7 linked regions of the Homo sapiens genome follow. The protein of the gene in region 1 purifies or fractionates together with the protein of each later gene. This does not show direct contact. Each region holds a gene or a part of one and is shown in the gene's direction. Other genes may lie near its edges. The genes, in order: CCS, ACSF2, ANXA5, PPIL3, PCK2, GSTO1 and GMPS.

Region 1 (3,998 bases):
GCTTTGAGGAAGGTGTGAAAATTATGTGAGACTCCCTGCCCTTCCCGAGCTGCTGAAGAGGTGTGCTGGGTGAGGTGGCAAGCCAGCCCAAGTGTCTAATACCTTGCAGAGAATCTGGGGGCAGCAGTGGCCATCCTGGGGGGGCCTGGCACCGTGCAGGGGGTGGTGCGCTTCCTACAGCTGACCCCTGAGCGCTGCCTCATCGAGGGAACTATTGACGGCCTGGAGCCTGGGCTGCATGGACTCCACGTCCATCAGTACGGGGACCTTACAAACAACTGCAACAGGTGAGTTGTCTGAAGTCTCCCCAGTAGCATTCTCAGCTACACATTTTCACACTGGGCCCTCACCAATACTCTGTGAGGCACATACACACAGGCACAACCTCCAGATGAGGAAACTGAGGCTCACAGAGGTTAAATGACTTGCCAAAGGTCCACAGCAGGTAAAAGGTAGAGTTGGGGTTTGAGTCAAGATCTGACCTTGGCTGGGCACAGTAGCTCACACCTGTAATCTAGCACTTTGGGAGGCTGAGGTGGGCGGATCACCTGAGGTCAGGAGTTCAAGACCAGCCTGGCCAACATGGTGAAACCCCATCTCTACTAACAATACAAAAAAAAATTAGCCAGGTGCAGTGGCATGTGCCCATAATCCCAGCTACTAGGGAGGCCCGTAATCTCCTGAGGCAGGAGAATCACTTGAACTCAGGAGGTGGAGGTTGTGGTGAGCTGAGATTGCACCACGGCACTCCAGCTCAGGGGTGACAGGGCAAAACTCTGTCTCAAGAAAAAAAATAAAATCTGATCTTGAAGGTCCTGCTTATAACCACCTTACTGCCTCTGAGATGGAAGGGGACTTCTGGACACAGCAAAGGAAGGGTCCCCATGCCATGGTGTTTGTCATGCTGTGATATAACTAGTTGTTTACTCATCTGTGAGTCCCCTGAGCCAGAAGCTTATTCAGGACAGGACCCATGTCTGATTCTTCTCGGTGCCCTCTACCCAAAGCCCAGCACAGAGTAGGCCTGTTTGTTGAATGAATGAATGAATGAATGAATGAAGCAAATATAAATAGATGAGAGGGTAGAGCACCTGGCCTGTGAGCTGCTTTCCTGCCCACCTGTTTCCTTTCTTTCTTAGCTGTGGGAATCACTTTAACCCTGATGGAGCATCTCATGGGGGCCCCCAGGACTCTGACCGGGTAAGTGTCTGTCTGGGTTTGGGCTTGGGCTGAGAGAGGACCCAAAGTCTCAGAGGCAGGGCAGGCAGCTCTTGGGATCATAACAGTGTGATTCCTTTTTGGTGGAGTCTTTTCCTCTCATTTTATTTTGCTGAGTTTGGAAACATTTGTTGACACTTTCTGTGATCAAGGCCCAGGGGATACAATAGATTACAGCCCCAGTGCCTGACCCAAGGAGCACACAGTCTCTGGGGGAGATTACTGAATTCCATGGTTTCCAGGCAGTGAGATCATCCTTGCAGGAGCCTGCAAGAGGTCCTGGAGCCCACAGTGAATAGTTCATCTGCCTGAGGGGCAGGGGCAGTGGGAGGAAGTGAAATATGGAAGTTGAGGGTTTTACCTAAACTGAAAAGGCTGTCCCTGGTGTTCCCTAACACCCCGGTCCTGGAGTTTCATTTTTCAGCAGAGAATCATTTCCCAATCTTCAGGGAATTGTGTGTTGCCTTAATGATTTTTGCCTTATCTGAGTACTAGTTGTATTTTTAGTTACTCAATCATTTGGTTTTTTTATTTTATTTTCTGAGATGGAGTTTTGTTCTTATTGCCCAGGCTAGAGTGCAATGGCGCAGTCCCAGCTCATTGCAACCTCCGCCTCCCAAGTTCAAACGATTCTCCTGCCTCAGCCTCCCTAATAGCTGGGACTACAGGTGCACACCACCACACCCGGGTAATTTTTGTATTTTTAGTAGAGATGGGGTTTCACCAGGTTGGCCAGGCAGTCTTGAACTCCTGACCTCAAGTGATCCACCCACCTCAGCCTCCCAAAGTGCTGGGATTACAGGCGTGAGCCACTGTGCCCGGCTCTGACTGGGCTATTTTCTATCTTGATGGGTTTGCAACCTTGTGCCACAAAACAATTGAAACCATGGTATGTGTTGCTTAATGCATGTTACTGATTTTTTGGACTTTTCACAGCTCTGTTACCTATCATGCTTTTCTTTTCTTCTGTTTCTTTTCCTTTTCCTTTCTCCCCTCCCCTCCCCTCCCCTCTCCTTTCCGAGATAGGATCTCACTCTGTTGCCCATGCTGGAGTGCAGTGCTGTGATCATGGCTCACTACAGCCTTGAACTCATGGGCTCAAGCAATCCTCCCACCTCACCTGATAGCTGGGACCACAAGCATGTACCATTATGCCCAGCTAATTTTTTTTTTTTGTTTTTTTGGTGGTAGAAATAGGGTGTCACTATGTTCCTCAGGCTGGTCTCAAACTGCTGGGCTTGAGCAGACCTCCCTCCTCGGCCTCCCAGTGTTAGGATTATGAGCATGAGCCAGCATGCCTGGCCTCTGCCACATTTTTTTTTTTTCTTTTTCTTTTTTTTATTTTTAGTAGAAACGAGGTTTTGCCATGTTGGCCAGGCTGGTCTTGAAGTCCCAACCTCAAGTGATCCGCCTGCCTTGGCCTCCCAAAGTGCTGGGATTACAGGCATGAGCCACTGTGCCCAACCACCCTGTCACATTTCTAATGATCAAAAGTTTTTACTCCCTGTTCTGGGAAATTGGAGAGGCATTTCTTATAGAGTCCATTGCACAGTGCCATGCTTATGCTCAGTGATTAGTAATCTGCTGCTGCAAATCAAATGACTCCAAAGTTAGGAGTTTAAAACAACAAACATATACTGTCTCTGGGGCAGGAATTTGTGTGTGACTTAGCTGGGTGCCTGCAGCTCAGGGTCTCTCTCGGGGCTGCAGTCATCTCAGGGCCCCACGTGGGGAGAATCTGCTTCCAGGTTTGCTCATGTTGCTGTTGGCAGGCCCCAGGTCCTCCTTGGCTGTTGGCCAGAGACATCAGTTCTTTGCCACATGGGTCTCTCCCTAGGGCAGCTAACAACACGGCAGTTGGCTTCTCTCAGAGTGAATGAGCGAGAGAGAGAGAGATTGAGATTGAGAGAGGGCGTCCAAGACTCAAGCCACATTCTTTTTGTAACCTAATCTTAGAAGTGACACTAGGTCCAGCCCACACTCAAGGGAGGCACATCATAGAGGCCATTCGCCTCATGCAGCCTTGAAAGATGATGGGCAGGAAGTAGGCATTGAAGAGGGTAAGAGTGGGATTGGCAAGCCCAGCAAAAGAAACTGCCCGGGCAAAGCCCTCAAGGCATGGAATGGCAGGGAGTGTTTCTGAAGGGCAGGAGCCTGTCTTGTGACCTGTGTTTTCTTCCTGGGCCCCAGGTGGGGCAGGGAATCAGAAGGGGCTGGCATCAGCAGCTGTACCTCACCCAATCCCTTAACTTAGACAAGGAAGAACTGAGCAGGAGCTGACCAGCCAAGGCCACGGTGACTGGCAAGTTGCTGTTGGGTTTTAGCATCTGCTTTTCCCAGGTGGAAAAGAATTCCATGTGGGAATTTGCATTCAAGCCTGGTTGTCCCTTGCACATCTCCTAACTGATCTCTAAGCTCCCTTCTGTTCTCTCCTCACCCTGCTCCAGTCTTTACTTTTCATAGACTGCACTAGAAGGATTGTTCTGAAGCCTGGAGTAACCAGGCCATGCCCCTGCCTGAAACTTGTCTTGGCTCCCAGTGCCTGAGAGTACAAGCTGGGCCTAGCTTCTTGATGTGGACATTCAATACCCCACTCCCCCTGCCTATTGCCCCTGCCTGTGTGCTGAGGAAACAGCCTGGAAAGGCTGCCTTTCCCTGAACTCCTGCTGGGTCATGCCTCCAGCCACACTGTCCAGGCTGCCCCCTGCCTTGAGGCCGCTCCTCCAGCCGGGCACAGTGGCTCACGCCTGCAACCCTAGCACTTTGGGAGGCCGAGGCAG
Region 2 (4,618 bases), on another chromosome or scaffold:
CCCTGCAGAGATCTAGTCTGCTCACTCCCAGCACCTCTGCCTCCTGACCCCAGGCCCCTACCAATGATGTCTCTGTTTCCACCATTCGGCTGCCCTCCACTTTCCCTTTTCTTTTATGAATTCCTTCCCATTTCCTCAGATAGCTCACCTGATCCCTCTGCACGTGCTGAGCCCTCTTCAAACACCCTTTCTGGACCCTCTAGGTTGCTTATGGAACCACAGAGAACAGTCCCGTGACATTCGCGCACTTCCCTGAGGACACTGTGGAGCAGAAGGCAGAAAGCGTGGGCAGAATTATGCCTCACACGGAGGTGAGCCCCTGACCAAGACTCCAAAGTCCCACCTCCCGTCACCCAGCTGGGGTGCACCCAGCTGGGACATCGGTTGCTTTCAGTGAGAGAGTCAAATGGCTCACTCAGGATGCCTAGAGCCCCCCAGCAGCAGGGGTGTGCTAGGCCTGGCCCGGAGTGTTCTCTGTGGGCTAAGCATGAAAGGGGAAGAGCTGGAACAGTGGCTGTGAGCGGCTGCCAGCTGAACTTCTCCGCGGCCTCCCTTCCTGTCTGAGGTGTGTTTTTGCCAAGCCCACTGTCTGTTTCAGGGCAGCCAGGGTAGCCTCAAAGAGGAGCCAGAGCACAGAGAGTTTTCCTACACAGCTTCTTTTCCTCCAGTGGTGCTCGCCTCTCGCTTTAGCAGAGTTCTTCTTCTTGCTTGGCGTAAACACTTCATTTCCCAAGCAGCCTATCCCTTTGGGGCGGTCCCTTTGCCCCTCAAAGGTTGCCCCAGAGTGCACCTGAATCTCAAATGCCCAGCCATGCCTCCTTTCCTGCTCCAACACTGGGGCTGTGCCAGCTGGCTCCTGATTTCCCCTGCACCCTTCTGCTCCCGCCCCTGGGGGATCGCTGCCCCCGTGCACAAGCAGCTGCTTCCCCTGGGGCTGACCGCTGTCCTGGCGTGAATCTGCCCTGCCCTCCCGCCAGAGCAACCATGTACCCAGGGATTGAGTAGGGATGTGAGCCTCCTCCCGTGTGTGCTACAGCTGCACTGCCACTGTCACTAAGATGCCCACCTGGAAGGGAAACAGGGGCAGGCATCACTCACCCCATTTCACGGACACAGACACTGAGGCACACAGAGGCTCAGCTTTCCTTGGCACGGTGGCCGTGGCTCTTTTCTCTACCAGGCTTTCAGACTCTGTCTCTCCTGTTCACATGGTGTTGCCATGCCACCCTGTTTGGCTTATTTGCTGCTTAATGGGAAGTAAGAGGAGACTCCCTTCTCCTCTGCACGGTTTATAATTCTTCAGCTGGCTCTGCAGTCCACAAACCTCTTTCTTTGCAGCAGCTGCCTGCCCACTCTGTTTCCTCAGCCCTCCCAGCCTGGGACTCAGCTCTTCTTTCATGCCCAGCTCAGGTCTCTCACTGGCTTTGGGTCGACTCTAGCCTTTGTCTCCCTTCTCTGGATGGGGATAAGCAGAGCCAGGGGGCCTCATTCCAGGCAGTTGGGTTGGGGGGTTGGGGGCAGGCAAAGCTCTCTCCATTTCCAAGGACCACCTATCCTGAAGCAAGAGGATAGGAAGCCCCAACCTGAGGCCATCCTGTCCCAGGCCCGGATCATGAACATGGAGGCAGGGACGCTGGCAAAGCTGAACACGCCCGGGGAGCTGTGCATCCGAGGGTACTGCGTCATGCTGGGCTACTGGGGTGAGCCTCAGAAGACAGAGGAAGCAGTGGATCAGGACAAGTGGTATTGGACAGGGTGAGAAGGCAGGGCGGGGTGGAGGCTCTGGCCGCTGAGGGGAGGCTGGAGGTCTTGAGGCTGAGCCGGGAACATTAACCTGGCACCGTGAGGATGTGGGTATCAAGATGACCCCTCACATGCTGGAGTCTTAATTTCCAAAATGTATACGGTGGGGATGATCATACATAGCACAGAAGAAAGCAACTGGGTCATCACCCTACACCAGCAGCTGCAAAATCTGAGTCCAGATTCAGTCACTCATTTGTTAGCTCAGCAAATTCTTACTAGAATTCCTTATGTGCTAGCACCGTTCTCGCCGCTAGAGGTCCAGAGGAAAGTAAGATGAGAAGGATCCTGCTTTTTGGAGGAAGACAGATGATGCCCAACATCGATAAATAACACCAAGAAAATAGGCCAGGCGCGGTGACTCACACCTGTAATCTCAGCAGTTTGGGAGGCCGAGGCGGGTGGATCACCTGAAGTCAGAAGTTTGAGACCAGCCTGGCCAACACAGTGAAACCCCACCTCTACTAAAAATACAAAAATTAGCCGGACGTGGTGGCGGCACGTGCCTGTAGTCCCAGCTACTCGGAGGCTGAGGCAGGAGAATCGCTGTAACCCAGGAGATGGAGGTTGCAGTGAACCGAGATCGCGCCACTGCACTCAAGACTGGGCGACAGAGCAGGACTCCATCTCAAAAACAAACAAGCAAATGAACAAACAAAAAACACTAAGAAAATGAAATAGGGTTATAGGAGAGAAAGTGGCTGTGGTGGGGAGGGGAGCTTCCCTTAGATTGAGTGGACAGAGAAGATGTCTGGAGACATTTGAGCTGAGACCTGGAAAGAAGCCAGTCGTGAAAAGCTATGTATAGATGTGTTGAGAGAGACAGAATATGTTATAGGTATTGTTTTGTTTTTGTCTACCTCCCCTCCCCTTACTGGACTATTAATTCCAGAGACTGTGTCTTGTTCCTGCTATGTCTCCCAGAGTCTAGAGCAGTGGAAGACACATAGTAGCTGGTCAATAAATGTTTCACGACTGAGCAAGCAAGTGAGTGAACAAGGCAGAGATGACAGGTTGCCCCTGGGCTTTCCTTACAGAGATGTCGCCACAATGAATGAGCAGGGCTTCTGCAAGATCGTGGGCCGCTCTAAGGATATGATCATCCGGGGTGGTGAGAACATCTACCCCGCAGAGCTCGAGGACTTCTTTCACACACACCCGAAGGTGCAGGAAGTGCAGGTGAGGCACTTGGCTCAGGTGAGCCCCCAGAAACAAGAAACACACATGAACACGGTGATGTCTGATATTTTTCTTTGGCCCTGGAAGGTGGTGGGAGTGAAGGACGATCGGATGGGGGAAGAGATTTGTGCCTGCATTCGGCTGAAGGACGGGGAGGAGACCACGGTGGAGGAGATAAAAGCTTTCTGCAAAGGGAAGGTGGGAGCCTCCGCTCAACCTAGCTGATGCTGCTCTGTTCTTTGCTCACCCACTCCTCTGCCAACCAGCCCAGGGTGGGGATTGCTCTGCCCTTGACGAAGCTGACTCCTGGCCAGGCCAGCCCCTGGTCCCCTACCCATACCCCTGTGAGCTTGCGCAGCCTCACGCCTTACCTCCCTCCCTCTGGTCTGCAGATCTCTCACTTCAAGATTCCGAAGTACATCGTGTTTGTCACAAACTACCCCCTCACCATTTCAGGAAAGGTGTGTAAGGTGGAGGAGGCTGGGGAGGGCAGCCTGGGCTCTGGGGCCCCATAGGGCCCCACCTCTGTTTCCTTCAGCAATGGGTGTGGAGAGACTGGCAGTAGGGTGACCGGGTCACCTAATCCTGGTTTGCCTGGGGACTTTCCCTGTTTTGGCACTAAGAGCCTGAGAAACCCCTTATTCTTGGGTGAACCAAGACAGCTGGTAACCCTAACTCCATTTTCTTTCCTCTAGATCCAGAAATTCAAACTTCGAGAGCAGATGGAACGACATCTAAATCTGTGAATAAAGCAGCAGGCCTGTCCTGGCCGGTTGGCTTGACTCTCTCCTGTCAGAATGCAACCTGGCTTTATGCACCTAGATGTCCCCAGCACCCAGTTCTGAGCCAGGCACATCAAATGTCAAGGAATTGACTGAACGAACTAAGAGCTCCTGGATGGGTCCGGGAACTCGCCTGGGCACAAGGTGCCAAAAGGCAGGCAGCCTGCCCAGGCCCTCCCTCCTGTCCATCCCCCACATTCCCCTGTCTGTCCTTGTGATTTGGCATAAAGAGCTTCTGTTTTCTTTGGCTTCTTGCTGGTGGGCTCTCTTGGCAGCTACTACAGGATGGAGAAGGGAAGACACTGAGGGGAACTAGCACTTTCAGACGTCCTATTCCTTGTCATTGAGAGTGCAGAGCACCTTGATGTGGATTATCTACTTAATTTAACCCTCACCCTTGGTATCCCTTTGAGATACCAACCCATTTTTGTTGTTGTTCTTGTTTTTTGAGACAGAGTCTTGCCCTGTCACCCAGGCTGGAGTGTAGTCATGCGATCTCAGCTCACTGCAACCTCTGCCTCCCTAATTCAAGTGATTCTCCTTCCTCACCCTCCCAAGTAACTGGGATTGCAGATACCCACCACCACACCCAACTAACTTTTGTATTTTTAGTAGAGGCGAGGTTTTACCATGTTGGCCAGGCTGGTCCTCAAACTCCTGACCTCAAGCAATCCGCCTGCCTCAGCCTACCAAAGTGCTGGGATTACAGGCATGAACCACTGCGCCTGGCCCCAATTTTTTATTTTTAAGCTACTCTAATTTAATTCTTTTTCACATTGTTGCCAGATTAGTCTAGCAAGAAGTATTCTTTTTATATATGTATAACAGCTTGATTGAGATGTAATTCACATACT
Region 3 (3,998 bases), on another chromosome or scaffold:
GCCCAGCCGATATCACTAATTTTTTTTGAAATACGAAGATATTTTGGTTATTAAAAGCAGTGTATATATATGATAAAGTAATGTGTAACAGGAAGCTTTATGAAGAATGTCTTCCAATACACCTTTATAAAGTTCTAAATTCAAAGATTTGTATTCCTCTGGCACGTGAACGATCATTTCAGGCTTTGCTGGGTTATCGTAAAGTCCCTAAGTATGTATACAGAAACAGGACTTAGATCAAAAGGCACGTAACAAGAGCACTGCTTAAAATTGAGTACTCAGGATAGGGTATTAAGATTTAGTGCGGGCTCAGTATGCTTGTAGATCAAAATGGTGTGAGACTTAATGGGAAGGGAACCTGCAAAGATGTGCCCTCTGTGAACCAGGAGGTGTTGGTGGGGTTTCGTCACAGAGAAGAGGGAGCCAGCCTTCCCACTGATGGTATTACAGGTGATCAGGATAGCTTCTGTGCTGAATCGGCCATGCCAATTCCCATTGTAAATGGTTCCCTTCCCAGTTCAAAAGGGGTCACAAATCTTATCAAATGGTAAATTTATTTAATGACTGAATATGATATATAGCAAGCGGCTTCCTGTTTGTGTTATTTACTTTGTCATATTAGTCATGATATGAATAATACCACTGTGTTTCGTGAATTAGGTTCTCAGAGGCACTGTGACTGACTTCCCTGGATTTGATGAGCGGGCTGATGCAGAAACTCTTCGGAAGGCTATGAAAGGCTTGGGTAAATTTAGCTTCCTCTTTCTAAAGCAAATGTGATATTTGTTTTTCCAAACAAGTCATTAATTACAGTAAGAATAATTTTAGAATATTTTGATCTGAAATCTGTAGGAGAAGAGATATGTTAAGATAACAAAATAATACTATAAACCAGAGTGTCCAGTCTTTTGGCTTCTCTGGGCCACATTGGAAGAATTATCTTGGGCCACACATAAAATACACTAACAATAATGATAGCTGATGAGCTAAAAAAAAAAAAAAAGCAAAAAAATTTCATAATGTTTTCAGAAAGTTTATGAGTTTGTGTTAGGCTGCATTCAGAGCTGTCCTGGGCCACATGTGGCTTGCAGGCCATGGGTTGGACAAGCTTGCTATAAACCATCCCTAATATTCAGTCTCTAGAACTGAACAGGCAGTTAAATTCAGCCTCTGTGCTTTTGAGCTTGTCACCCTCACCTGTGTGGTAGAGGCCCGAGTCGATAAGGCAGCCATCCCTGCAGGTGGGCAGCTGTGCAGCTCTGTTCCCAATCAGATATCCCATTCTCATTCTGCTAGACTCTTCTCTTTCCCCAGCCTCTTTTCTAGTCATTTAAAAACCTCTCATCTCAAGGATTTCCATGTGTCACTGATCTCCTGTGCTCAGGCTCCTTTTGTACTACTGTTCATGTGCTTTCTGGCCCTGTAAGTCCTTCCATTGTATCCAGCCCACCTTTTCAGACTCATCTCCCATTACTGTTTAATGTGTTCTCAGACCCAACCATCCTGGCTTATCTGCTGTTTATGAAAGCCCTGTATTTCCCCACTGCTGAGCTTTTCTCTCATTCTAAACGCTGTCCTTCCTTTCGTCACTGCCTTTCACAATCCTTCCATCCTTCAATACTTGTGGGTGTCACCTTCTCCATGAATCATTCTCCAAGATTCCCTTCCACCTCCTATCAGCTAGGAGACCCTTCTTTGAGCCCCATTTAACACCTAGATCTCTCCTGAGGCACTTGTCACATTTTGCCTTAGCTCATACTTATTTGTGTGTTTTTAAAAAACTAGGTGCCCTAAGTTTTTTAAAAGGCAGAAGTATTTTTCCATCTACTTCACAATAGGTTGGGAATGGGGGGTAGAATATATTGGAAACGTAACATTTTATATATTGTAAATTTTTAATAAACTGTTTAATAAAACATTTATATATATGTGTGTATTTGCGTCTGTGTGTGTGTGTGTGTATATATATATGTGTGTGTGTATATATATATATATATACATATTTTTTTTTTTTCTAAGAGATGGGGGTCTCACTATGTTGACCAGGCAGGTCTTGAACTCCTGGCCTCAAGCAATCCTCCCATCTTGGCCTCCCAAAGAGCTAGGATTACAGATGTGAGCCACTGCGCCGGCCATAAAATATATTTTATATTCGCATAGGGAGAGGCAAGGAAATAAGGTGACTGGGAAGCGAGTTGCCAAGATCGTTGGGAGAGTATGCATGTAGGAGCCAAAATGTAATTGTTAACCATAAATTGCAGGCACAGATGAGGAGAGCATCCTGACTCTGTTGACATCCCGAAGTAATGCTCAGCGCCAGGAAATCTCTGCAGCTTTTAAGACTCTGTTTGGCAGGGTAAGACCACACTTCATCCCAAGAGAGAATGGGAGAACAGCTATCAGTTATAAGACTAGTTTGGAATATACTGATATTCTTTTGTAAGCATCATTTATTTTGTGATTCCGACTTCCCTACTTCTGTTTCTTTTCCACTCTCCTCTAAATTATCAGCTCTTAGGATACAGTGCTCACCCAGCTTATCCTCACATAATTGTTTTTCCTTGCCTAATGCTGTAGAGGTGCCAAAAGATCCTGTAGTGAGAACTGTCTCTCTTCTTTTCCTCTGTGTTTCCCACTCAGCATTCACATGGATGTCTTACTATCCATTTTCTAGGTGTAAGCCTGTATTAAAATATGTTTTGTTTTAACACAGTCACAGTCTTGGTTCCTTTTGTCATGATTTTAACTAATGGGTTTTTAATTAGTTGATTTAAATGCTTTTATTTGATTAATAATTCAAAAAAATTTATTTGAATTATTTAAATGAATTATTTGAATTATTTAAATTTAAATGAATTAGTGCATGCATGGAAAACTTAAATGTAGTCTTGTTATTCTGAAAACGTATGTCACTTAACTAAGGAAACAAGTGCAAAGCAAAAAAGAAAGTATTCTAAACACCATTTTTAGTTGTGTGGTATGCTGAAACTTATAGGTAGGAAATACTGTGTTTTTTTTTTCACAATTACATAATTTTTTCATAATTACATACACAATTTCCCCATAGGAACAGATATCTCCCAGTGGTCAGGAGTCATAACAATGACTATAATCTATTATGTGTTTGAATGTTATTACATATTGAGAGAAAAGAAAAAATTATTACGTTTGGGTATGAGAGACTAAATGTTGTCCTTTGTAAATTTCATTATATGATTATTTTTTGAAATTACAAAGAAGATATGTTTCTCAGAATAGTATTTTTATAAAATAGTTTTAGACTACTTTTAAAGGTATTCTTTTTTTTCAAGTTAAGAAAAACATCTTTTAGAAACAAATATCTTGACGTATAAGTGGGTTTGCTTTAGTTTAAGATTTTGGTCACAGGTTAAAAGTATGTTATTCAAGGTTATAGGGTTTTGTTTAGCTCATGGGCCTTCTACTTGGAGACAGCAACATAAAGAATTCATTAGAGCAAAGGACTGTCATTCATATTTAAGAAGAATCTTATTACAATTTCTGCTGGTTAACAAATTTGTATTTTCTGTGGGTTAGGATCTTCTGGATGACCTGAAATCAGAACTAACTGGAAAATTTGAAAAATTAATTGTGGCTCTGATGAAACCCTCTCGGCTTTATGATGCTTATGAACTGAAACATGCCTTGAAGGTAAAAAGGATGAGTGAAAGGAACATTCTTGCATAGATAGTATTATTTTGTTTTGGTAATTACTTCCTCTTATTTGTTATATTTAAAAAATTTTATCTGATTATTTCAGTGAGAGTTGCTTGGCAGACAAAACTGGGAGGCAATAAGCAGTAAAGGAGGGAGAAAATTACACGTGTGTCATTTCATCTTTTTGTAGATTTAAACTCAATAATACTGGGCTGTTTAAAATTTTCATATTTTTATAGCTTTTTGTATTTTATTTTCATGCCTGTCTTCTGATTTTGAGGATGTTTAAAAAATATTACAGATGAGCTATTTTATCTTTTTCA
Region 4 (3,998 bases), on another chromosome or scaffold:
TGATAAAAAATTCAAAGTTAAAATAATTCTTTCCATCAAAATATTTACTTCCAAATTTTTGTCATGGATACTACTTAACCCTAACATTTATATTCTGGAGTTTTTTCTCTACTGTTGGGATCAATTTTGAGAAAAAAGTACAACTTAACCTCTAAGAGCTGCTTTGTGGATGGGTCATCTCTGAAGCAGTATTTCTGTCTGTTTTTATTCAGATTATCATCTTGAATATCCACACAGGGAAATAAACAATGCATAAAGTCACCTAAATAAATTTCATTTGTTCTCACATTTTCTCTCCTTTTTAGTCTGTGACACTGCATACAGATGTAGGTGATATTAAAATTGAAGTCTTCTGTGAGAGGACACCCAAAACATGTGAGGTAAGTACTATTATTTACATATTCAACATCAGTTAATACAACAAGATAAGCACTTTGGAATTGAATAATCTAACCTAAATAACAACAACAAAACTTTCTGTAAAACCATTGTTAGGGAAAACTAGCCATCCTAACTTCTGGCCTGATTTCCACTTATTTGTCCAATGTCAAAGGTGGATCAAAGAGAACGTAGATAATTTTTCGGTAACGATAGAGTAGCCAGTATCTTTTTCTTTTGAACTAATTTTCTTCAGGAAACGTAATCATTAGGACATTATATTACTTTTTTCTTTCTTTTTTTTTATTTATTTATTATTATTTTTTTTTGAGATGGAGTCTCGCTGTGTCCCCCAGGCTGGAGTACAATGGCGCGATCTCGGCTCACTGCAACCTCCGCCTCCTGGGTTCAAGCAAGTCTTCTGCCTCAGCCTCCCGAGTAAGTGGGATTACAGGCGTGCGCCACCATGCCTGGCTAATTTTTGTATTTTTAGTAGAGACAGGGTTTCACCATGTTGGTCAGGCTGGTCTCAAACTTCTAACCTCAGGTGATCCATGCACCTCAGCCTCCCAAAGTGCTGGGATTACAAGCATGAGCCACTGCACCTGGCCTTTTTTTTTTTTTTTTTTTTCTCAAGACGGAGTCTTGCTCTGTCACCCAGGCTGGAGTGCAGTGGCATGATCTTGGCTCACTGCAACCTTCGCCTCTGGGGTTCAAACGATTCTCCTGCCTCAGCCTCCCAAGTACCTGGGATTACAGGCACCCACCACCATGCCCAGCTAATTTTTATATTTTTTTAGTAGAGACGGGGTTTCACCATGTTGACCAGGCTGGTCTCAAACTTCTGACCTCAGGTAACCCGCCTGCCTCAGCCTCCCAAAGTGTTGGGATTATAGGCATGAGCCTCCATGCCCGGCAGGATATTATATTAAAGAATTGTTGTATACTTTTTTTTTTTTTGAGACAGGGTCTTGCTCTGTCGCTCAGACTGGAGTGCAGTGGTGCAATCACGGCTCATTGCAGCCTCAACCTCCTGGGCTCAAGCAATCCTCCCACCTTGGCCTCCCAAGTAGATAGGACTACAGGCGTGTGCCACCATGCCAGGCTAATTTTTTTTAAATTTTTATGGAGACGAGATCTCACTATGTTGCCCAACTTGGTCTCGAACTCCTGGTCTCCAGCCATCGTCCCATCTCAGCTTCCTGAAGTATTGGAATTATAGGCGTGAGCCACCATGCCTGGCCTGTTCTATACATTATTTCGCCTGTTTATTTTTATTTATTTATTTATTTATTTTGAGACAGAGTTTTGCTCTTGTTGCCCAGGCTGGAGTGCAGTGGCCCAATCTTGGGTCACTGCAACCTCCGCCACCCAGGTCCAAGGGATTCTCCTGCCTCAGCCTCCCAAGTAGCTGGGACTATAGGCGCCAGCCACCATGCCCAGCTAATTTTGTATTTTTAGTAGAGATGGGGTTTCACCATGTTGATCAGGCTGGTCTCAAACTCCTGACCTCAGGTGATCCACCCGTCTTGGCTGCCCAAAGTGCTGCCCAAAGCCACTGCACCCGGCCTGTGTCACCTGTTTAAATGACAAGGATGGAAGGAAGAAGAGTCACCTGTATATATTCATTTATTCAGCAATTATTTATGGCTGGGCATGGTGGCTCACATCTATAATTCCAGCACTTTGGGAGGCTAAGGTGAGCTCAGAAGTTCTAGGCTTACCTAGGCAATATAGTGAGACCCCCATCTCTACAAAACAATACAAAAATTAGCCAGATGTTGTGGTGTGACCCTGTTGTCCCAGCTACAAGGGAGGCCAAGGTGGGAGAATTGCTTGAGCCTAGGAGGTCAAGACTGTAGTGAGCTCTGATCACACTGCTGCACTCCAGCCTAGGTGACAGAGCAAGACCCTGTCTCAAAACGAAACAAGAAACCCATTATTCGTGAAAGGCTATCTTGCCCCAGAGTCTGGAGATACAGTGATGAGCAACAGACATTCCTTACCCTCATGGAGCCAATATTTTAGTTGTAAAAATAAGCAGGGCAGGAAAATTAAGTAATTATATTTTTAAGAAATTATTTTCATTTATTTATTTTTTTTTTAAAGATAGAGATGAGGTCTTACTATGTTGCCCAGGCTGGTCTTGAACTCCTGGACTCAAGTGATCTTCCTGCCTCCCAAAGTGCTGAGATTACAGGTGTGAGCTGCTGTGCCTGGCCTAAAATTAAGTAATTCTAAAAGATGATAATGCCTTGAAAAAAATTAAGTGTTGAGATAGAGAATAATGGGAAAGGAAGAAGGTGAGGGCAGGTGTAGCCAATAAACTAATACTTAAATTAAATGCAAAGGTATGAGGGCATCTCCATGGAAAGAGGTATAGAAAGAATATTCCAGGTATTCAGATTCAGAAAAGGTTGTGAAATAAAATTTTAAAAAATTCCAAGACCAGGCACGGTGGCTCACACCTGTAATTCCAGCACTTCGGGTGGCTGAGGCAGGAGAATCATTTGAGCTCAGGAGTTCAAGACCAGCCTGGGCAACATAGGGAGACACTGTCTCTACAAAAAAAAAAAAAAAAAAAAAAGAACATTCCAGATATAGAAATCTCAGGTACAGAGTACCCCAGGTAAGAAAAGCTGCCCCTTTTGGATTAATTGTCAGAATGCTGATGGAGTTTAGGTAGTAAGCAACAAGAAAGCAGTTCTTAGTATATGTGATGAGGAGATGAGCCAGGTACTGCAGGGCTTGTTAGGCCCTGCTGAAGATTTTCTTTTTGTTTTTGGTTGTTTTTTTTTTTTTTTGAGACGGAGTCTCTGTCGCCCGGGCTGGAGTGCAGTGGTGCGATCTCGGCTCACTGCAACCTCCGCCTCCCAAGTTCACGCCATTCTCCTCCCTCAGCCTCCAGAGTAGTTGGAGGCGCCTGCCACCACACCCAGCTAATTTTTTGTATTTTTAGTAGAGATGGGGTTTCACCATAGCCAGGATGGTCTCGATCTTCTGACCTCGTGATCCACCCACCTCGGCCTCCCAAAGTGCTGGGATTACCGGCGTTAGCCACCATGCCCGGCGAAAGATTTTGTATTTTATTTCAAGAGGAGAAGGAAGCTATTGAAGTGTTGTAGGCAGGGAAATGACATCCAAAGTAATGACAACAGTCATAGTTTAAATATGCTGCTATCACGTTTTCAGTAAATATGATTGGTTTTTTGTCTTAACTGGGTTTCTGCTGCATCATTTCTCAATCATTTTTACTCCCTTCAGAATTTCTTGGCTCTTTGTGCCAGTAATTACTACAATGGCTGTATATTTCATAGGAATATCAAGGGTTTCATGGTTCAAACAGGAGATCCAACAGGTAAGTTATTCCATTAACCAAGATCTAAGGAACTGAATGTATAGTATGAAGAAGTGGGTAAAAGAAGAGGAATTAAATACGTGGAGTTTTTGTTTTGTTTTGTTTTGTTTAATAAGTTCTGTTCTACAAGTACAGAACATGCAGGTTTGTTACATAGGTATATGTGTGCCATGGTGGTTTGCTGCACCTATCAGCCTGTCCTCTAGGTTTTAAGCCCAGCATGCATTAGCTATTCGTCCTAATGCTCTCCCTCCCCTTGCCC
Region 5 (3,998 bases), on another chromosome or scaffold:
AAATCAACTTAACTAGAACATCCCAATGGAATGAACAAGAATGAGAGCTTTGGGGTAAACAGACCCAGAAACTGGGATTTGCTTACGCCTATAATCCCAGCACTTTGAGAGGCCAAGGCGGGTGGATCACCAGGTGTCGGGAGTTTGGGACCAGCCTGACCAACATGGAGAAACCCCGTCTCTACTGAAAAAAAAAAAAAAAAATACAAAAATTAGCCCAGCATGGCAGCGCATGCCTGTAATCCCAGCTACTTGGGAGGGTGAGGCAGGAGAATCACTTAAACCCAAGAGGCGGAGGTTGCAGTGAGCCAAGATCGCGTCATTGCACTCCAGCCTGGGCAATAAGAGCGAAACTCTGTCTCAAAAAAAAAAAAGAAAGAAACTGGGATTTTTTTTTTTTTTTGAGATGGAGTCTCACTGTATCACCCAGGCTGGAGTGCAGTGGCATGATTTCAGCTCACAACAACCTCTGCCTCCGGGGAATTGTCTCAAGCAATTCTCCTGCCTCAGCCTCCGGAGTAGCTGGGATTACAAGCATGCGCCACCACACCCAGCTGATTTTTGTATTTTTAGTAGAGACAGGGTTTCACCATGTTGGCCAGGTTGGTCTCAAACTCCTAACCTCAAGTGATCCACCCACCTCAGCCTCCCAAAGTGCTGGGATTACAGGCATGAGCCACTGCGCCCAGCCTAGTTTGTAGTTTGTATTTTATTTTAATGTTAAATGAAGAAGCTGATATAAATAAGATCCTTTGCTTTTTTTTTTTTTCCTCACCAGTTCAGGGAGCTTTTGCCAGGGGCAGAGACCCCCAGAGGGCTGGGACCTTGGGGAACACCCCTTAGATGGGACAAAGCCTGGAGGAAGGGACTGAGATGTGATTGGGTGGGGAAACATAAGGCCAACAGAAGACCTGGAGTCAAAGTTGGACTTGAAAAAGTGGGTCTAGGGACAAGGGAAACCTGCTGGCCACCATCTTCCTGACAATCCCCTCTCCCCCAGCTGGCTGGCCCGCACAGACCCCAAGGATGTGGCACGAGTAGAGAGCAAGACGGTGATTGTAACTCCTTCTCAGCGGGACACGGTACCACTCCCGCCTGGTGGGGCCCGTGGGCAGCTGGGCAACTGGATGTCCCCAGCTGATTTCCAGCGAGCTGTGGATGAGAGGTTTCCAGGCTGCATGCAGGGTAACCAGGGCAGGGGCACAGTGGCAAGGGCACGGAAGATGTGAACAGGTTTGGAACCCTTCATCCAGGGGATGCCTTCCTCCACAGGCCGCACCATGTATGTGCTTCCATTCAGCATGGGTCCTGTGGGCTCCCCGCTGTCCCGCATCGGGGTGCAGCTCACTGACTCAGCCTATGTGGTGGCAAGCATGCGTATTATGACCCGACTGGGGACACCTGTGCTTCAGGCCCTGGGAGATGGTGACTTTGTCAAGTGTCTGCACTCCGTGGGCCAGCCCCTGACAGGACAAGGTAAGCACCTGCTCTGCCCCAAGGGGAACACAGAGGCCTTCTTGTACTCAGAGGAAATCCCAAATCCTACCTCTCCACAGACCCTAAGAACCTGTCCTCTCTGGCAACCTAATTCCCAAGATCCAGAGCAGCAGTCCCAGCAGAGGGATAAGGCTGTGTTTGCAGAGCACTTTGCACTAGGTTGAGAAAAATCCGTGTCCAAGAATAGGGGCATGGAAGCTGATGGTTATTATGAGGTGGGGGGCTTCAGCCACCTCTTGGTGCTGCTACTGCTCCCAAGTGTCTCTCCTGCCAATCCCTGATCCCTCTGGCCCCGACACCCCAGTTCCTGATGCTGCTGCCAGCAGCCCCATGACCCCATTGTCCCCAGGGGAGCCAGTGAGCCAGTGGCCGTGCAACCCAGAGAAAACCCTGATTGGCCACGTGCCCGACCAGCGGGAGATCATCTCCTTCGGCAGCGGCTATGGTGGCAACTCCCTGCTGGGCAAGAAGTGCTTTGCCCTACGCATCGCCTCTCGGCTGGCCCGGGATGAGGGCTGGCTGGCAGAGCACATGCTGGTGAGGGCCTGGTGAGAAGCAGGGCAGCTGCCGGGGACAGGGCAGGGGTGGGGCCTGGCCAGTCTGCCTCAGCCTCACCTCCCTCCTGCCAGGTGCCAGGCTGGTGGGCGGGGACTCTACTTGAAGGCCCAAAGCTTTGGCCTCAGGCTGCTGAATGTTGAGGTTTCCCCTGCCACTAACCCAGGCCTGATGGCAGGGCAATCACTTATATAGTTAATAAACATTGGTCCTCCCTATTAGACCCTAGCTGCCCTTCCCCATGCAGACCATGCCCTGACTTTTGGTGACCTCTTTCTTATTCCCTCTCTCCCCAATGCACAGATCCTGGGCATCACCAGCCCTGCAGGGAAGAAGCGCTATGTGGCAGCCGCCTTCCCTAGTGCCTGTGGCAAGACCAACCTGGCTATGATGCGGCCTGCACTGCCAGGCTGGAAAGTGGAGTGTGTGGGGGATGATATTGCTTGGATGAGGTTTGACAGTGAAGGTGAGGGACTCTCAGATCATACTCTTGGTTCTGGCTCTTGTCAGAGCCTCGGGGTCTCCTCTCTAGTGTTCACAATGACTTTGTCAGTGAGAAAGTTTCCTGAACACCCAACCCTGCTCCATTCCTCTGGCAGCCCAGCCACCCGAGAGACAGCCTTTCCTCATCAGATCTTGGGTCCATCTCAGGACAGGGGTGGGTGGAGCAGGACCTTCTTTGGTCTTACATCTCAAGTTTTCCTTGTTTGGTCCTTCCTTTCTTTCACTTCTCCTAACAGGTCGACTCCGGGCCATCAACCCTGAGAACGGCTTCTTTGGGGTTGCCCCTGGTACCTCTGCCACCACCAATCCCAACGCCATGGCTACAATCCAGAGTAACACTATTTTTACCAATGTGGCTGAGACCAGTGATGGTGGCGTGTACTGGGAGGGCATTGACCAGCCTCTTCCACCTGGTGTTACTGTGACCTCCTGGCTGGGCAAACCCTGGAAACCTGGTATGTGCGGTGGGGAAGGTGTGGCACAGCCTCCAGGCCTCAGCACCTTAATGGTGGAAAAGCTTTCTCCACAACCTCCAACCATCTTCTAGGACTGCCAGGAGGCACAGAAGTCATGAACGTTTGCAGTTTCCAGTCCCAGGCAAAATCTCAGTTCATGTCCCAACTCCACCAGTCACTGGTTTTGTGATCTGGCTAAGTTGCTCAACTTCCCTAAGCTTTAGTTTCCACATCAGTTGAATGAGGGTAGTTGTGATAGTACCTATCTCATGAGATTGTTGGAGGATTAAATAGTGCATAAAAAGGGTTTATCACACTGACAAATACACAGTAAATTCTCAATAATAAATACAGGCTGGATTTTTTTTTAATGAAAGGAAAAGGAAGGACTTTTGAACATTCTTACAGAAGGTATTGGGCTCCAAGCACTATCCATAAAGTTTGGCCCATTAGGAAAAGAGGAAAGCTGCCTCCTCTGCTCCAACTCTCCTCCTGCCACTTGGCTCCCACTGTCCCCTGTATAATAACCACTGTCTAAAGGTCAGTATTGTTACCGTCACCCTTCCCCTGTCCCTCCAAAGCATTCACCCCAATCCTTCCTACAAACAAAATCAGGTCAGTGCTTGAGTCTTTCCCAGAAGCTAGTTTCTGAATCCTGTCATTACCCTGGGCGCCTGGGAGTCCCACCTCTCCCTCAGCCCTGCACTCTGGACCTTCAGTATTCTTTCCATGGCCTTCTGCAGTCAGGCAGTCCAGACACCAAGAGGCAGGGGCAAAGAAGAGCATGGGAGGGGAGGCTGGCCTTGTAGTCACTGAAGCCTATATTCAGGTTTGCCAGGCTGGCCTAGCAGTCACCCTCCTTGCTTCATCTAATCACCCTTTATTTTTACTAACACCATCATTAAGCCCCCCTCAGCCTTCCCACCCAACTGAGAAATCCAAGAAACTTTCATCTTTCCCCACAGGCTAGTTCCCCAACCCTTTCAT
Region 6 (3,998 bases), on another chromosome or scaffold:
GGTTCTGGGATTACAGATGTAAGCTACCAAGCCTGGCCTTGTGGGTGGATTTTAAGGATTCCTTAATATCTTCATAAAAACCAAGAAACTTTTTACTCAAATTAGCAAAATAAATTGAATTTTATGTTGGTTCTCATATAGTGGATAGTGGACACAATTCAATTAGTTGCCTCATATGATTTATAACTAAGATACCTCTTAGCCATAAATGGAGTATCTTATTGACAATTTTGAAGCATTTCCACAGATTTATTCATTCATTTATATGAAATATTTCAAAACAAAAATATTTACTGAGTCCTTATTTGAAACTTTTTATTTTCTTCAGAGCATTTATATCTATATAGCATTTTGCTCATTTACATGTTTGTTTATTACTATGAACAGATACACAAGATCCCACCTTTCGTGAAGCTTACATTCTAGGAAGATAACAAACTTGTAAATAAGTGAGCAAAGTAATTTCAGATACATATTATCAGTTCAATGAAGAAAGTAAAACATGATAATCATGTAATAGAAGCTGCTCAGCAACTTCAGAGCTATGGTCAGGGAGGGCCTGGGGATGTGTGTTTGACCTGGGAAGACCTGGGAAAAGGCAGGCAGAGGAGGCAGAGGACCATCAAGTGCAAAGACTCTAAGGTGGAAACACATTTGGCAAATTCAAGGAATATAAAAACCGCCAACGTGTAAAAGAAAACATAGGGGAAAAGCTTCATGACACTGGCCTTGGCAATGATTTCCTGGACATGACACCAAAGACCAGGCAACAAGACCAAAAATAAACACATGAGACTACAGCAAACAAGCTTCCACACAGCAAAGGAAACGATTAACAGAGCAAAAAGGCAACCTATGGAATAGGAGAAAGTACTTGCAAACCACATACCTGGTAAGGGGTTAATCTCCAAAATACATAAGGAATCTCTACAACTCAACAACAAAAAAACCTGATTTTAACATGGGCTAAGATCTTACATAGACACTTCTCAGGCTGGGCATGGTAGCTCACGCCTATAACCCCGAGGCAGACAGTTCACTTGAGCCCAGGAGTTCAAGACCAGCCTTGGCAACATGGCAGAATCCTGTCTCTACAAAGAAATTAGCTGGGTGTGATGGTGCACGCCTGTGGTCCCAACTACTCGGGAGGTAGGAGGATCGCTTTAGCCCAGGAGGTCGAGGCTGCAGTGAGCTGCGATCAAGCCACTGTACTCCAGTCTGGGAGACAGAGTGTCAAAAAAAATTAAAAATTAAAAAAATAGACATTTCTTCAAAGAGGATATAAAAATGGGCAACACATATATGAAAAAGTTCTTATCACTAATCATCAGGAAAATGCAAATCAAAATCACATAATAACCTCACACTTGTCAAGATGACTATAATGAAAAAAGACAAGTGTTAGCAAGGATGTGTAGAAATCAGAACCTTTGCACACTGTTGGCGGGAATGTAAAATGGTACAGCTGCTATGGAAAACAGTATAGATGTTCTTCAAAAAATTAAAACTAGAACTACCATGTGATTCAGCAATCTCACTACTGGGTATATATCCAAATTAAATGAAATCAAGTTCTCAAAGAGATATTAGCACTCTCACGTAGACTGCAGCACTGTTCACAACAGCATAATGTCAATGTCCATCAGCAGATGAATGGATAAAGAAAATGTGTTAATGCTATTCCACCTAAAAAGGAAGGAAATTCTGCAATATGTGACAACATGGATGGACATTGCGGACATTATGCTAAGTAAAATAAGCCAGACACAGAAAGACAAATACTGCATGATTGTTCTTAAAAGGTGTATCAAAAGTAGTCAGATTCATAAAATCAAAAACTAGAATGGAAGGAATCTAGGCAGACTCCTAAATTTGGGGTCTGATCAGCTAAGTGGATGGCAAAGCCAGTGAGAATTTATCCAAAAGCACAAAAGTTGTTTCCTTCTCTTCATAGTCTCCTATGTGTCTTTCAGGCATGAAGTCATCAATATCAACCTGAAAAATAAGCCTGAGTGGTTCTTTAAGAAAAATCCCTTTGGTCTGGTGCCAGTTCTGGAAAACAGTCAGGGTCAGCTGATCTACGAGTCTGCCATCACCTGTGAGTACCTGGATGAAGCATACCCAGGGAAGAAGCTGTTGCCGGATGACCCCTATGAGAAAGCTTGCCAGAAGATGATCTTAGAGTTGTTTTCTAAGGTTTGTGCATAAGAAATTTCAGCTCCTATTTGAAAAACCTGTTTTTTAAAGCGAAATCAGTGCTGCCATTTATGGTTCAGTGATTTGGGAGAGAAAAACAAAACAGGAATATGCTTGTCAGCTCTGAGTGTCCTGCAAGTCCTTTCACGATCCAGTTCCTGTTTACCTCCAAAATTATCCCTTTTCACTCGTCTCCTGACACTTTATATATGCCAGCCATACTAAACTTTTCTCAGAATTCCCAAATTCGCCCCTTTCTCTTTCAATTCTTGCTGTCAGATTCTTCCCACTTCTCACTGTGCCTGGTTATCTCCACGTCATTTTTCACATGTCTGCTCCGACACTGCTGCCTTTTCAGGAGCTTGGCAGGCTGGTTAGTGCTCTAGCTTCTGAGTTCCCATCCGTGTGAACTTTTGCCTGCCTTCTTGCCTGTGTACTGCACTGGGGCTGTGAGCTCCTTGAGGGTGAGGGCTGTGTTTTGATCACTGTTAGTTCACTGCCTAGTTTTATGACTGGCTCTGCTACTTTCTTGTGACTCTGAGCAAGTTACTTATTACTTTGCCTCTCCGTTCATCATTGGTAAAATGGATATAGTAATTGTTCCCACCTCATAAGATAAAAATCAGTTAATATAAAACACCCAGAACAGAGTCTGACACATGGGAACTACTTAATTCTTGTCCTTATAGCCATAGCATCAAGCAGTGAGCATCTACTTTGTGTTGGCAATAACTCAGATGACTGAATAAATAGCAATCCTGTAGAAGAACTGTTTGTACCTTACTTAGCATCAACACTGTGGATTAGTTCAAACAATTAGTATTAACAAAGAAATGACTAAAAGATGTGTGTTTAGACACCAAGAATAGCATGTCTGGTTATATGCCTATAACATTGTCACCTTGGTAGTACGGTCAGTATATAAAGGATTATCTTTAGAGAAAAAGATGGTTAAAGAAATGCCCTAAGAGAGAGTTATAGGGAAAACATTCTGTTTTAGGAGACATTATAAAGGGAAGCCAATGGGACAGGAAGAGTGAGTCATCTGCTTAGTAAGATGAGGGTGAAAGAATAGTAGAGGCGGCTGCTGTGAAAGATAATGTAAAGGGAACATGACATTTTCAAGAACGATGTGGGAGAGTTTTACAAAGTAGTAACAAGTTAAAGGCATGCAGCTTCAAGACACGAAGTCATCAATACCAACCAAAAAAAATAAGCCTAAGTGGTTCTTAAAGAAAAATCTCTTTGGTCTGGTGCCAGTTCTGGAAAACTTTTTTTAGTATGGCTGGAATATAAAGTGTCAGGAGAAGAGATAAAAGGGGTAACTTTGGAGAGGTAAACAGGAACTGGATCGTGAAAGGACTTGTAGGACACGTCAGAGAAAATGAGCTTTAAAAGTAAAGCTTTTAGACATGAAGCTTTACTTTCATGCATAAAGCTACTACTTTAAAAAGTAGTCACAAGAGATTCATTGTACTATCTAGAAAGAAAATGAGATTTAAAAGTAATGCTGAAGATGCCCACCTTTACTTCCCTGCTTGGGTTTTAAAGGAGAGGTGGCTTTATGTACATATGACCCTGCTCTCCTGGCCACAGCCCATCAGAACAGAAATGTACCCCACCCCACACACCTGGGCCAGTTATCTTCTCTCCTGGGAACTTGGAAATGAGACACAGAACTAAGACAGTAAAGGTTAGGACAGTAAAGACAACTAAGCGTTGGGGCTCAAATAATGTTAATTAGAGGCTAGAAAAACCAAAGCCACTTAAGAAATAAATTTTTAGAGGAGCAAGAATTAAAA
Region 7 (3,998 bases), on another chromosome or scaffold:
TTCTGGGCATATCATGACTTTATTCCCGTTGCTTACCATCTACCTGGGACACATCTCTCTTTGATTAAATATATTCTTTTTCTTTGTACTTTTTAGGTAGACAGAGAATGTAGATCATTGAAAGCATTATTTATTCCTAAGATTGGCAGGCACAGAATCATTTTTAAGAACCAAATACCCAGTCCTGCCTTAAAGGCCACATCTATGATCATCAGCTCTGTTAGAAATAACAGCCTGGCATAATTCCTAAATACAAGTCTGTAGATATATCCAGGAGATAGGGTTACACTGTTTTCTAACCTTTTTTAAATCCCTTAATCTTGAGGTAAACTGCATGCATTTAGTCAAACAAGCATCATAAAATTTGTTTCCTCACTGTTTGGGCTTAACCTCCTGATAGCCTGTTTTACTGAATAACTTGACCCTAACCTGTAGAGAATAAGAGCATTCAAATTAGGAAGGCAGGACTATCCATCTTTAGTGCTTTTCCTGCCGTTAAACAACAATGTGAACTTGGTCAAGTCATTTCTGTTCTTTATCTGTGACATGAGGTAACTGTATTAAATTTTCAGCATCAAATCCAGCTATAAATTTGTATTTTGTAAACAAGAGAAAGTAAAGCAGGAGACAGAATGGAGAAGCTGGATAGTGTTTTTTTTTTTTTTTTTTAAGGTTCTTTTATCATCAGATATGACACAAAGGGAAACATCAAAATGCACCGTAAAGTTAAATCCTAGTTACCTTTTTTTGAAGCTGTTGGCAAGGTTTGACCACTTGGGGCATCTTCTGCTGTGAGATGACACTTGAAAAACACCCATCAAAGTTTTCCTGGTAGGAATCTCTCTTTACTGCGTGTTTTTTTGAAAAGCTGACAGAGAATATGCTTTGGCTTTGACACTAATGAAGTCACCCATCATCAATTACATACAGCTAATTGTTGGGAGCTAGAGCTAGAATCCAAGCTTTCTGATTCTCTGCATGGAAGAGGAAATGCTCTAGGGCCCTTCAGGGCAAATCTTAAAAGGAAGTTCTTGGCCGGGCGCGGTGGCTCATGCCTGTAATCCCAGCACTTTGGGAGGCCGAGGTGGGTGGATCACGAGATCAGGAGATCGAGACCATCTTGGCTAACACGGTGAAACCCCATCTCTACTAAAAATACAACAAATTAGCTGGGCGCGGTGGCGGGTGCCTGTAGTCCCAGCTACTCGGGAGGCTGAGGCAGGAGAATGGCCTGAACCCAGGAGGCGGAGCTTGCAGTGAGCTGAGATAGTGCCACTGCACTCCGGCCTGGTGAAAGAGCGAGACTCAGTCTCAAAAAAAAAAAAAAAAGGAAGTTCTTAGTGTGTAATTGACCATCAGGGATAAATGGGCTTCAAAAGTGTTAATTGTCTCCTTACTTACAGTGAGTTTCTAGAGATAGCCCTGTCTTTCAGAAATTCTCTGACATCTGCTTGCGCAATGTTATAACCACTTTCCCACACTACTCCCCTCCAGAAATCTCATTGATATGTGGCGAGGACACGCCTTAGCTATCACCCCAATGGATGCTTCTTTCATTGACCCAAATCCAGAATGTAATGGGGAACTGAATACAAGTTGGATGTCTCCACCCTTGGAAAGCACATCTTTTGTTCTTACTGAAGTAGTTTAACACCACCAGATGATCAAGGGATCAGGGTATCTTTCTGGTATCTTTTTAATCACTGAAGGACTTTGACAGCAGTAATGGTGGCATTGTTGACTCTTAAATTTCTGAACGTTTCACTTAATGGCAAGTGAAGAGATATAGAATCCCCCAAAGAGTGTCAAGATGCTAACTTCCAACCCTATTTTTATGTACTGAAGAGGCCTCAGTGTCTCACTGAACTCTAACCTTTTTGTCAGTGTTCCTCAACACTGGATGCGTATTATTACATAACCTGAGGAGTTAAAAAATACAATAACCAGATGTCCAATTAAATAAAATTAGAATCTGGAGGAGGTAGAACTCAAGCATTTACAGTTTTGTTTTGTTTTTTTTTTAAGACAGAGTCTCGCTCTGTCCCCAAGTGCAGTGGCACAATCTCGGCTCACTGCAAGCTCCGCTTCGTGGGTTCACGCCATTCTCCTGCCTCAGTCTCCCGAGTAGCTGGGACTACAGGCGCCCGCCACTACGCCCGGCTAATTTTTTTGTACTTTTTAGTAGAGACAGGGTTTCACTGTGTTATACAGGATGGTCTCGATCTCCCGACCTCATGATCCGCCCGCCTCGGCCTCTCAGAGTGCTGGGATTACAGGCGTGAGCCACCACGCCCGGCAAGCATTTACAGTTTTAAATCTCCCAGTCAGAATAAATTCTTATTGAGGGCCATACCTAGCCTGTCTTCATCAAACTCATAGGTGAATCTTTGTCAAACCTATAGGAGAGAGATGCAGGCCATAGAGATGGTCTTGCTGAAGGTCTTATAGCTAAATTAGTTCAGATCCAGGAACCAGATTCTGGAACTGATTGCACCTATATTATGTTGTGTGTCAGACACTCCCAGGACCTGTTTGGTAATAATTAGGACAGCTGACATACTTGTTGCTAATTTTGAGATCTGGGCAACAACTGTGTAGGCTGTTCTTTCAACCTCTTTCTTCTTACTTCTTTACTTTTCCTTCAGAGAGGAGAAAGCCACCCCTGTGCTATAGCCACCGCTCCAATTCTGACTCTAGCTAGGTCATGAAACAGACTGAGCTATTATTGCATCAACACATAAATCCTGTCATTTGGGTATTATTCTTTAGAGAACTAGAGATTACCTAGCTGCAACCTAAGTTTCCTGAATTAGAATCATTTGAGCAGCACCATCTTAATTGGCTCATTAACATATTTGTGACCAGGCACAGTGGCGCATGCCTGTAATCCCAGCACTTTGGGAGGCCGAGGCGGGCGGATCTCTTGAGGTCAGGAGTTTGAGACCAGCGTGGCCAACATGGTGAAACCCCATTTCTACTAAAAATGTAAAAATTAGCTGGGCTTGGTGGCGCGCGCCTGTAATCCCAGCTACTCGGAAGGCTGAGGTGTGAGAATCACTTAAACCCGGGAGATGGAGGTTGCAGTGAGCAGAGATTGCGCCACTGCACTCCAGCCTAGGTGACAAGAATGAGACTCCGTCTTAAAACAAAAACAACATATTTGTTCACTTTTGAACCCTGTGGTGTCTTTTAACTTTGTTAAGGGCCCTTGGTTAGCAAAATTATGAAAGTTTAGGAAATTTGGCTATTGAGTATATTAAGTACAACTACAAAATCCTCTGAGTTCTCCAGGAAGCCTAAACCTTGAGCAGTATCTTATTCAAGTGGAGTATATATCTTCAAGAATACAGATTTTTAAGGTAAGTAGTTTTTCGTCTTTGCATCTCCTAAGACCATTGTTAACAACCTTGATATTAAACGAAGAAGTGAATGTAAACCTCCTTTTGAACATATTTTTTATAAAGAAATATTTTGTTAATTGGAGTAAGTAGTATTGTTATGAAATCACTGTGTAATTGTTAATTGTAAACTGCAATGTCTATTTTGTGTTGTAACAATGTTGCCATAAAATAGCTTTGCTAAATGTGAAATGACTTTAATCCCTTTTGTCTTCAATATACTTCATAAAGGAGGAAATGATGATTTACACAATTTGTCATGAAGCTTCCGTGTTTATGAGAAATTCCAAGAAGTAAGAGCCAAGAGGACAGATATTATCAGAATATGGGACATAAGAAATTGCATATAGTGTCAAGGGTTTCTATATAACAACTTAATTTATTTCCCTTGCATATATAGTAGGGGTTAACATTTTGCTCAATGTTAACGGGGGACATAATGGACATAAAACATTGGATAGCTTTTTATTTAAATGAGCTAAAGGTGTGCGTATACACATGCACTTATAAAATTAAAGTCATATATGTATATACACACAGACTTATGTGACTTATTGCATATTCATTTACGTTTGACCAAATCTTTTGTCAATTTCTCAA

What was found.
Region 2: the proteins of CCS (region 1) and ACSF2 fractionate together in Homo sapiens (co-fractionation; one large-scale study listed by BioGRID). This does not show direct contact.
Region 3: the proteins of CCS (region 1) and ANXA5 fractionate together in Homo sapiens (co-fractionation; one large-scale study listed by BioGRID). This does not show direct contact.
Region 4: the proteins of CCS (region 1) and PPIL3 fractionate together in Homo sapiens (co-fractionation; one large-scale study listed by BioGRID). This does not show direct contact.
Region 5: the proteins of CCS (region 1) and PCK2 fractionate together in Homo sapiens (co-fractionation; one large-scale study listed by BioGRID). This does not show direct contact.
Region 6: the proteins of CCS (region 1) and GSTO1 fractionate together in Homo sapiens (co-fractionation; one large-scale study listed by BioGRID). This does not show direct contact.
Region 7: the proteins of CCS (region 1) and GMPS fractionate together in Homo sapiens (co-fractionation; one large-scale study listed by BioGRID). This does not show direct contact.

The regions. Positions count from the first base shown.
Region 1 is NC_000011.10:66,599,350-66,603,347, forward strand, and holds part of CCS (copper chaperone for superoxide dismutase), read left to right. Parts: intron 1-109; coding exon 110-287; intron 288-1,139; coding exon 1,140-1,200; intron 1,201-3,998. UniProt on the Homo sapiens protein: Delivers copper to copper zinc superoxide dismutase (SOD1).
Region 2 is NC_000017.11:50,470,825-50,475,442, forward strand, and holds the end of ACSF2 (medium-chain acyl-CoA ligase ACSF2, mitochondrial isoform 2 precursor), read left to right. Parts: intron 1-203; coding exon 204-311; intron 312-1,544; coding exon of another isoform or gene 1,545-1,559; exon of another isoform or gene 1,560-1,574; intron 1,575-1,603; coding exon 1,604-1,755; intron 1,756-2,840; coding exon 2,841-2,982; intron 2,983-3,069; coding exon 3,070-3,180; intron 3,181-3,374; coding exon 3,375-3,443; intron 3,444-3,677; coding exon 3,678-3,728; 3' UTR 3,729-4,013; downstream 4,014-4,618. UniProt on the Homo sapiens protein: Acyl-CoA synthases catalyze the initial reaction in fatty acid metabolism, by forming a thioester with CoA. Has some preference toward medium-chain substrates. Plays a role in adipocyte differentiation.
Region 3 is NC_000004.12:121,683,035-121,687,032, reverse strand, and holds part of ANXA5 (annexin A5), read left to right. Parts: intron 1-660; coding exon 661-745; intron 746-2,261; coding exon 2,262-2,356; intron 2,357-3,555; coding exon 3,556-3,669; intron 3,670-3,998. UniProt on the Homo sapiens protein: This protein is an anticoagulant protein that acts as an indirect inhibitor of the thromboplastin-specific complex, which is involved in the blood coagulation cascade.
Region 4 is NC_000002.12:200,882,080-200,886,077, reverse strand, and holds part of PPIL3 (peptidyl-prolyl cis-trans isomerase-like 3), read left to right. Parts: intron 1-305; coding exon 306-380; intron 381-710; coding exon of another isoform or gene 711-816; intron 817-3,642; coding exon 3,643-3,736; intron 3,737-3,998. UniProt on the Homo sapiens protein: PPIases accelerate the folding of proteins. It catalyzes the cis-trans isomerization of proline imidic peptide bonds in oligopeptides. May be involved in pre-mRNA splicing.
Region 5 is NC_000014.9:24,097,203-24,101,200, forward strand, and holds part of PCK2 (phosphoenolpyruvate carboxykinase [GTP], mitochondrial isoform 1 precursor), read left to right. Parts: intron 1-1,000; coding exon 1,001-1,185; intron 1,186-1,272; coding exon 1,273-1,476; intron 1,477-1,846; coding exon 1,847-2,034; intron 2,035-2,355; coding exon 2,356-2,518; intron 2,519-2,792; coding exon 2,793-3,011; coding exon of another isoform or gene 3,012-3,103; exon of another isoform or gene 3,104-3,551; intron 3,552-3,998. UniProt on the Homo sapiens protein: Mitochondrial phosphoenolpyruvate carboxykinase that catalyzes the conversion of oxaloacetate (OAA) to phosphoenolpyruvate (PEP), the rate-limiting step in the metabolic pathway that produces glucose from lactate and other precursors derived from the citric acid cycle.
Region 6 is NC_000010.11:104,257,603-104,261,600, forward strand, and holds part of GSTO1 (glutathione S-transferase omega-1), read left to right. Parts: intron 1-1,973; coding exon 1,974-2,196; intron 2,197-3,998. UniProt on the Homo sapiens protein: Exhibits glutathione-dependent thiol transferase and dehydroascorbate reductase activities. Has S-(phenacyl)glutathione reductase activity. Also has glutathione S-transferase activity.
Region 7 is NC_000003.12:155,940,090-155,944,087, forward strand, and holds the end of GMPS (GMP synthase [glutamine-hydrolyzing]), read left to right. Parts: 3' UTR 1-3,931; downstream 3,932-3,998. UniProt on the Homo sapiens protein: Catalyzes the conversion of xanthine monophosphate (XMP) to GMP in the presence of glutamine and ATP through an adenyl-XMP intermediate.